Homo sapiens: one gene and its partner. The protein of the gene in region 1 interacts with the protein of each later gene in a pairwise test. Each region holds a gene or a part of one and is shown on either strand. Other genes may lie near its edges.

What was found.
Region 2: the proteins of FBLN2 (region 1) and JOSD1 interact in binary tests that used the Homo sapiens proteins (3 or more experiments, as listed by UniProt).

Annotation. Positions count from the first base shown.
Region 1 is NC_000003.12:13,546,952-13,550,700, forward strand, and holds the start of FBLN2 (fibulin-2 isoform a precursor), read left to right. Parts: upstream 1-2,173; 5' UTR 2,174-2,257; intron 2,258-3,749. UniProt on the Homo sapiens protein: Its binding to fibronectin and some other ligands is calcium dependent. May act as an adapter that mediates the interaction between FBN1 and ELN.
Region 2 is NC_000022.11:38,699,160-38,702,908, forward strand, and holds the start of JOSD1 (josephin-1), read right to left. Parts: upstream 1,785-3,749; 5' UTR 1,641-1,784; exon of another isoform or gene 1,460-1,640; 5' UTR 829-1,459; coding exon 644-828; intron 1-643.

The DNA.
Region 1 (3,749 bases):
GGGCTCTGAAGGGACAGCCGCTTTGGCCGCATCTCCGGCTCAGATAACAGGACGGGAGAAGTGTCTCCACTTTATCTTGTGGAAGGCGGGCCAGGCCTTGGGCTCCCTGGGCTGCAGAGTGAGCTGCATCTGGCTCAGTGCCTCTCCTCCCAGGCCTGGGGAAGGGAGCCTCATTAGCAGCTGCCCAGGGTCTCTATCACCCCAGGCCACTGCCCCTCCTTCCCCCACAGGAGGAAGGATTCAATCTGTCATTTACTCATCAGATATTTACTGAGCACTCCCTTGGGTCAAGTCCCATCCAAAGTACAGATAATCCCTGACTTACGATGGTTCGATTTAGGATTTTTTGAATTTAGGATGTTGAGAAAGTGGTACACACCCAGGAGAAACCCTACTTGGAATCCCCAGGCAATCATTCTGTTTTTCACTTTCTGTGCAGTATTCAATGAGTTACATGAGATATTCAATGCTTCATTATAAAATAGGCTTTGTATTAGATGATTTTGCCCACCCGTAGGCTAGTAATGGAAGTGTTCTGAGCACATTTAAGGTAGGCTTGGCTGAGCTATGATGTTCTGTAGGTTAGGTGGATGAAATGCATTTTCAACTTACTATATTTTCGATTTACGATGGGTTTATGGGGACATGATCCCATTATAATCGAGGAGCATCTGTACTTTCGGTTTGGCTCATTTCGGTTCATTTGATCTTTCCAATAACATTATAAGATAGGCTTTGATGTCGTTATGTTCATTTTACAGTTGAGGAAATAAAGCCCAGAGAGGTGAAGTAACTTGCCCAAGGTCACACAGCTGGTGTGTGGTGACTTTCTTAATGACCAGGTGATCCTACCTATAGTCATTTATAAATGAATAAGAGAAATCAGCCAGTGACAAGTACTGTAATAACAGTGCGGCCGAGTCCCAGGGTGGAGAGTGGTAGTTGCTACCTCTGCTGGGGTCTCAGGGAGGGCTTCTCTGGGGGTGGTGGGATTTCAGCTGCATCTTAATGCAGGGATGAGTCAGCCACGGTGGATCTGGGGAAGAGCATCCCAGGCAGAGGGAACAGCAATGGCAAAGGCCCTGAGGGAACAGCAAGCACAGAGCTCCAATGGGGAAACGGGCCCAGAGGGAAGGCACCTGCCTGGGGTTAGACACAAGTTGGGGCAGGCCAGGCACAGGCTGCCAGCTCAGGCTTTGGCCCCTCCATCCGCTCCTGGCTTCTCTGTGGGTGGCCCCATCTAAGCCAATGGGCCCTTCCTGGCTCCACCTCCTCTCTGCTGTGCGGCCCTGGGCAGGCAGCTGCCCTGCCCTGTGCCTTTGCTCTTGGCTGCCTCACCCCTGTCCTGGGCTGCAGGGAGACCCCTGGGGGTGGGGGCAGGCACACTTTGGGCCCATGGCTGCTGCTCAGATGTGAGGTGGTGACCACCAGGCCATACGTCTCTGGACAGGGATGGGAGAGACTCAGAGAGACACAGAGACCAAGAGATAAAGTCAGAGGGAGATGCAGAGACCAAGAGGGACAAACCAAGGGAGACAGAGAGATGACATTAGATCAGAGATGGAGACCCCGAAAGAGACCCAGAAAGGGATCGGTGTGGGCTGGGGGAAGAGACACCCCGGGGGTCACACAGTGGTCACAGGCATCAGAGCTGGGCTGAGGAAAAGGACAAACTGAACCTGTTCCAAAGCTGGGGGCTCAGTACCGTCTGCCCAGGCACATGCAGCAGCAGTGGGGCTGCAGGCAGGCCCCCAGGGTAGGAAGCAAGGCGGGTGGGAGGCAGGGCCTGGCCTCTGGGCAGTTTTGTAGCCGGGCCCCTCAGGCCCTCACAATGTGCCCAAGGCTGCTGGGCCCATCTTCCAGGGGTGATCACTGAGGCTCAGGCTGGCTGAGGTGGCCGGACCCCAACCCCTGGCCCTGCCCTGTGGGCAGCAGTGCCAGGTCTGGCACTCAGAGGTTAGGCCGGGCGCAGGGAGGGTGCGGGCTCCGCAGCGAGCGCGCCGGGCGGCCTCTAGGAGCCGGGTCAGCGAGTCTGGGCTCTGAGCGAGCGGCGCCGGCCCGGCCCCCTCTCCGGCGGGCGGCCGAGACCCCGCCCCGGAGGCGGAGGCGGAGTCAGGGGAGGGGGCCGGGGGCCGGCTGGTCCCGCCTCTCGCGCCTCCGCCCCGCCCCGCGCGCACACAGCCAGGGGCCGCCCGGGCTCTCGACGCGCCGACGGCCGGGCGGACGGACGGACGGACGCCGAGCGCAGTGCCCCGCGGTGAGTGCACGCGGCCCCTCCCGCCCGGACTCATCCCCGTCGGTCCGCGCCTCGCAGCTCAGGACTCGGGGGCGCTCGGACGCACCGACGGCTCGGCGGACCCTCGGACGCGCCTCGCGGGCTGCCCGCGCCTCCACCCGCGCCGCCGGTCCGACCGGGTCTCGCTCTCCCGGTCCCAGCGCGGGGACGGCCCGCGAGCGCCGCGACCCAGTGTACAGATGCGGGCACAGAGGCCGGCGCGGGGTGGGGGCCAGGGGTCCGCGGGCGGGTTCCCCCACCCCAGGTCCGCAGCTTCCTCCGCTCTGGGTTTCACTTCTCCCCCCTGGGCCGGCTCCCACCAGTCATCCCCTCTGGTCCCACTGCCCACCCCCACCCCGACCGCAGGACCTTGCCGCCCCTCCAGTCCAGAGGGCCGGGTCAACCCCCTCGGGGAAAGAAGACTAGAGTCCCTGGTCTAACACTACCCCCTCCATCACCCCCAAGTCACACTCACCGCCACACACGCACTCACACAAGCAGAAGTTTCTGCACGCTCTGCATTGGCGCGCCCACCCTGCCTGTCACCACATCCTCCCTCTCCCAGCCCCATGCTCACCCCGCCAGCTCCCCCAGGCCAGAATCTCTCACACTCATCTCACGTCCCCTTAGCACACAATGCTCCACACACACATGCCTTGCACATTGGCACCCCTCCGAGGCATGCCTCTAGCAGACAGTTGTGTCTCTGATAAACACATGTGCCCTTACTGCCCTCTGACACGCACACACGTCCGCCACACAGGGGTAGCTATCACATGCATATCTCCATCATATGTATCACACATGTGTCTCTCACATGCGTGTGCTCCTCAAATACCTGGAATCACAAACACTGGGAGTGCCACACACTGTGAGTCTCACATACGAGTCACAGACCCCCACGACTTCACAGTCCCAGCCCCCCTGGCACTCCATGGGCAGTCCTCCCCTGTCCTAGGGGGTGGGGAGCCGATTTTGGAGGAGGGAGGTGGTTCCTCCTGACAGAGGCTGCTTACCATGGGACCTGGGTGGCTGTGGGGAGCATGGGGGTGGCTCAGCCTCAGGCTGGGCCTGACTCCTCACCTCCGTGCATCCTCTCTCCCTTCCCCTGCTCCAGTCTCCGAAATAGGGGTGCCCTCCCTCCCTTTTTTGCTGCCACAAGGAGTTGCCCATATCAGCTTTGCAGTGATCACTTGGGCCAGTCCCAAGCAGGCCTGAGCCAGCAGGCGTCCCCTGACAGGCCAAAAAGAGAAAAAGGGAAGTCAAACAGGATGGTTTGGGTGCTTGTGTCTACCCTGATGCCCCTGAGATGCTGGTCCGGGCCCTCCCAGAGGGAGCCCTGATGAATTGGGTGGCAGCTGAGAAGTGTTCCCTCAGCCTGGCATGGATTGGGAGCTGGTGTGTGTTTGTGGCTGATAGGGGCTCTGGGCCTTAACTTCCCCATATGCCAAATGGGGTGAAGACTCCCCAGCAG
Region 2 (3,749 bases), on another chromosome or scaffold:
GCTATTTAGAAGCTATTTGGACATATTACCTGACCTTTCTGCCTATCAGCATAATACAGGCAGTGAAATGACTGTTGGGAGAGCTTCACAAAGCAATGTACGAACAGCACTACTGCCAGCACATGGCCTCACAGAAAAGCTGAGCATTGTTTATACATCTTGCTTGTGGTACCCACCACATTCCACCTTTAAAGACAGGTGACTGAACGTGTACGTATCTAGTCCCACTTCTAGACTGTAAACTCCTCGGCAGCAGAGCTTTACAGGCATTATAGCATAGTGGTCAACAGCATAGATATAAGAATTCAACCCCAGCTCCAAGTCTTGTTATCTTGGGCGAGGTACTGAACTAAATGTGTCTTCATCAGTAAAATGGAAATAACATCACATATTAACACGTATTCCACGGGACTGTTGAAGATCACTCAAGAAAACACAGCTGAGGCTATGAGTACTTTCCTAGCCCACCGTAAGTGCCTGATAAATGGTAGTGATTATCTTTTCATGTCTTGTGTCCCTTATACCTGCTAACGCAATCTAGCTAATACCTACAGCTTTGAAGGTTTATGAAGCTGAGACACTGCCCCACCCACAGAAATCCAGAAATATCAGTATCAAGATGCCAAGGAGAAGGGTCCCCTACCTCTGGAAAATCTCTTGCAGCGTATCCCGGGTGAAGGCATTGCTGTCCTGGAAGACGTTATTGAGGGCGTGGAGGGCACAAAGCTCCCTGCGCTGTTTCTCATGGTAGATTTGTGGGGGTGCTGCCTGGGGCAGCTCCAATGATTCAGATTTGGCCTTGTCTCCTTTCCATGGCACACAACTCATGTTTTTTGTTTTAGGTTCCAGAGATGGCTATAAACACCCCACTCTTCCCTCTAGAGGAAGAATGTAAGCTTCTCAGTCTTTTCCGGATTCCTGAGGTCCACCTTATTCTCTGGTGTCCATGATTTATGCTTTGTCACTGGGAGAAAAGATTGGAATCAAAAGGAAAAAAATAAAACCCACCTCTTCTCTCTTCTCAATAGAAAAATAACTTTTGGATTACTTTTATTTTGCTACCACTGTCAAAGTGCAGAATTTAAAAAAACACATAAAATGTAAGACCTTGTTTCCGTTTCCCCACCCTTCCCTCCCACCCCCCTCCAAAATCCCCACGATTTTCTTGCTGTTTCCCTCTGCAAATGCCAGGCCTCAAAGCAGGAGGACCGAACACAATCGGTCACATCGCTCCTTTTCTTCCATTTCTTTTGAACCACGACGCCAATGACTCGGGAGACAAGGCCTGGGTGACGGATAAATTTAGCGCACGAGTCGAGTAGCTAGCGCGGGCCGGCAGGCGTGGGACCGCGAGCCGCGCGGGGGCCTCGGGGGCAGCCCTCCATCCCCTCGGGTACGGTGGGGCCCGCAGGGCGCGGCTCCCTCGGAAGGCGCGGATTCTAGCCCTCTGGCCGCGGCCCTGCGGAGGAGGAGACAACTCCGGTCAGCGGCGAGCGGGCGCGGGAAGTGAGCGGCGGGGCCGGCCCCTGCCCGAGGGAAGGTTCCGCGCGGCGAAGGGCTGGCCCGCGAGGGGTGGGGCCGGACAGTCAGCCTCGCGCTCCCGGGCCCGCGCCCACCCGGCTCGCAGCCCCTACACAAACCTCCCCGCCCGTCACGTGAGCGCAGGCCCAGACGCCCTCCCGCCGCGCCCCCGGCCGCAGACCCCAGGGCCGCCGGGACTGCTCGCCGCTGGCGGTCCCCTCACCGCAGCCGGCCGCCACCTGGAGTGCGCGCCGCCAACTGGGCCGTGCGGGCGGGCGCGCGCACCTGAGCCCGACGTCAGCGGCCCCCGCCCGGCGCGTGCTCCGGAAACGCCCTCCCGCGCCGTCCTCACTCCTCCCAGCCGTGGCGTCACGCCTGACGTAAGTCTGACGTCATCGGCACCGGCCTGGGAGCCGCAGACGCCGGGCGTGTAGGGGCGCAGTTCAACGGTTGGGGTGTTGCAAAGGCCGTGGGTGTGGGGCTGCGGGCTGCGCACCTCGGCGGCGGCCGGCAGGGTTGGGGTCCAGCCGCTCCGCTCGGCGCGGCCCCTGGCGGGGCGGCCTGAGGGAGTCCTACCTGGACGCCAGCCTGCCCTTCTCCCGGGCGTGGGCGTTGTTTCGGGGCGGCAGCCAGGCCAGCGGCTGCAGTCCGCGGCTTTCAGCACCCCTCCCTTCTCTGTGCCGGGCTTTTCGGCCGAACGTTCTCGCTCCTTCTGCGTTGACTGTTTTATGTGTGGTTAACGCGCGGCTCACCAGGGGGGATTTTGAAGCACCTGATTCGGTCGGGCGCAAATTGCCTTGGTTAGTGGGCCCGACCGTGCCGCACTGTCCAGGGAGCGTCAAGGGTAGGTGTCTCGCTGGGAGTCACATTTCAAGTGGAAAGGAGAATCCTGTTGCAGTTCCTTGGTGTCGCATTTCGGTTCACTACACACAAGCCACTGCCTTCTTGCCTGGGGGCTCCCCGCTCTTCTCACGGTGGCTTTCCTCTCTGCAGAGACCTCTGCGCGAGGTATACCTAAGCGCATTGTGTGCGTCTTCGGGAAAAGGCGAAAACTACTCGCAGTCCCACGTGGATTTCATTTTTTCCCCTTTACCTACTCTTAGGGTGCGTGGTAGGCATCATTATCCACCTTAGCTGCCCTTCTTTTGGGTTTTCTGTAAAACTGGAAAAACGAGAAGAAACTGTTGCACTTCAAATTTAGTTGTTTTGTTTTGTTTTTTGGAGACGGAGTTTCGCTCTTGTTGCCCAGACTGGAGTGCAATGGCATGATCTCCGCTCACCGCAACGTCCGCCTCCCGGGTTCAAGCAATTCTCCTGCCTCAGCCTCCCGAGTAGCTGGGATTGCAGGCATGCGCCACCACGCCCGGCTAATTTTGTGTGTTTAGTAGAGGGGTTTCTTCATGTTGGTCAGGCTGGTCTCGAACTCCCGACCTCAGGTGATCCACCCGCCTTGGCCTCCCAAGGTGTTGGGATTACAGAAGTGAGCCACCGTGCCCGGCCTTTTTTTTTTTTTTTTTTTTTAAGATGGAGTTTAACTTTTGTCGCCCAGGCTGAATTGCAACGGGGCGATCTCGGCTTACTGCAACCTTCACCTCCTGGACTCAAGCGATTCTCATGTCTCAGCCTCCCGCGTAGCTGGGATTACAGGCTCCTGCCACTACGCACGGCTAATTTTTGTATTTTTAGTAGAGACGGGGTTTCACCATGTTGGCCAGGCTGGTCTCGAACTCCTGAGATCCACCCGCCTCGGCCTCCCAAAGTGCTGGGATTACAAGCGTGAGCCACCGCGCCCGGCCTGAAGTTTTATTATTTTTGAGACAGGGTCTTGCTCTCTTTCCCAGGCTGGAGTGCAGTGGCGCGTTCACGGCTAACCCACAGCCTCTGGGCTCAAGCGATCTTCCTGCCTCAGCCTCCTGAGTAGCTGGGACTACAGGCATGCATCACCACACCTGGCTAATTTTTATTTTTATTTTTGTAGAGGTGGGGTTTCATCACGTTGCCCAAACTGGTCTCGAACTCTTTCCTGGGCTCAGGTGATCTGCCCATCTTGGCCTCCCAAAGTGTTAGGATTACAGGTGTAAGCCACTGCACCTGGCAAACGTGACTATTTTAACACCATTACCCTCAACGTTATGATTTAACACGCTGGAGTGCCTGCCTCAGGGTGAGGAGCCCTCTGGCTCTGTCCAGCCAACTTTTGAATTAAATTTTTGTGGCCGGGCGTGGTG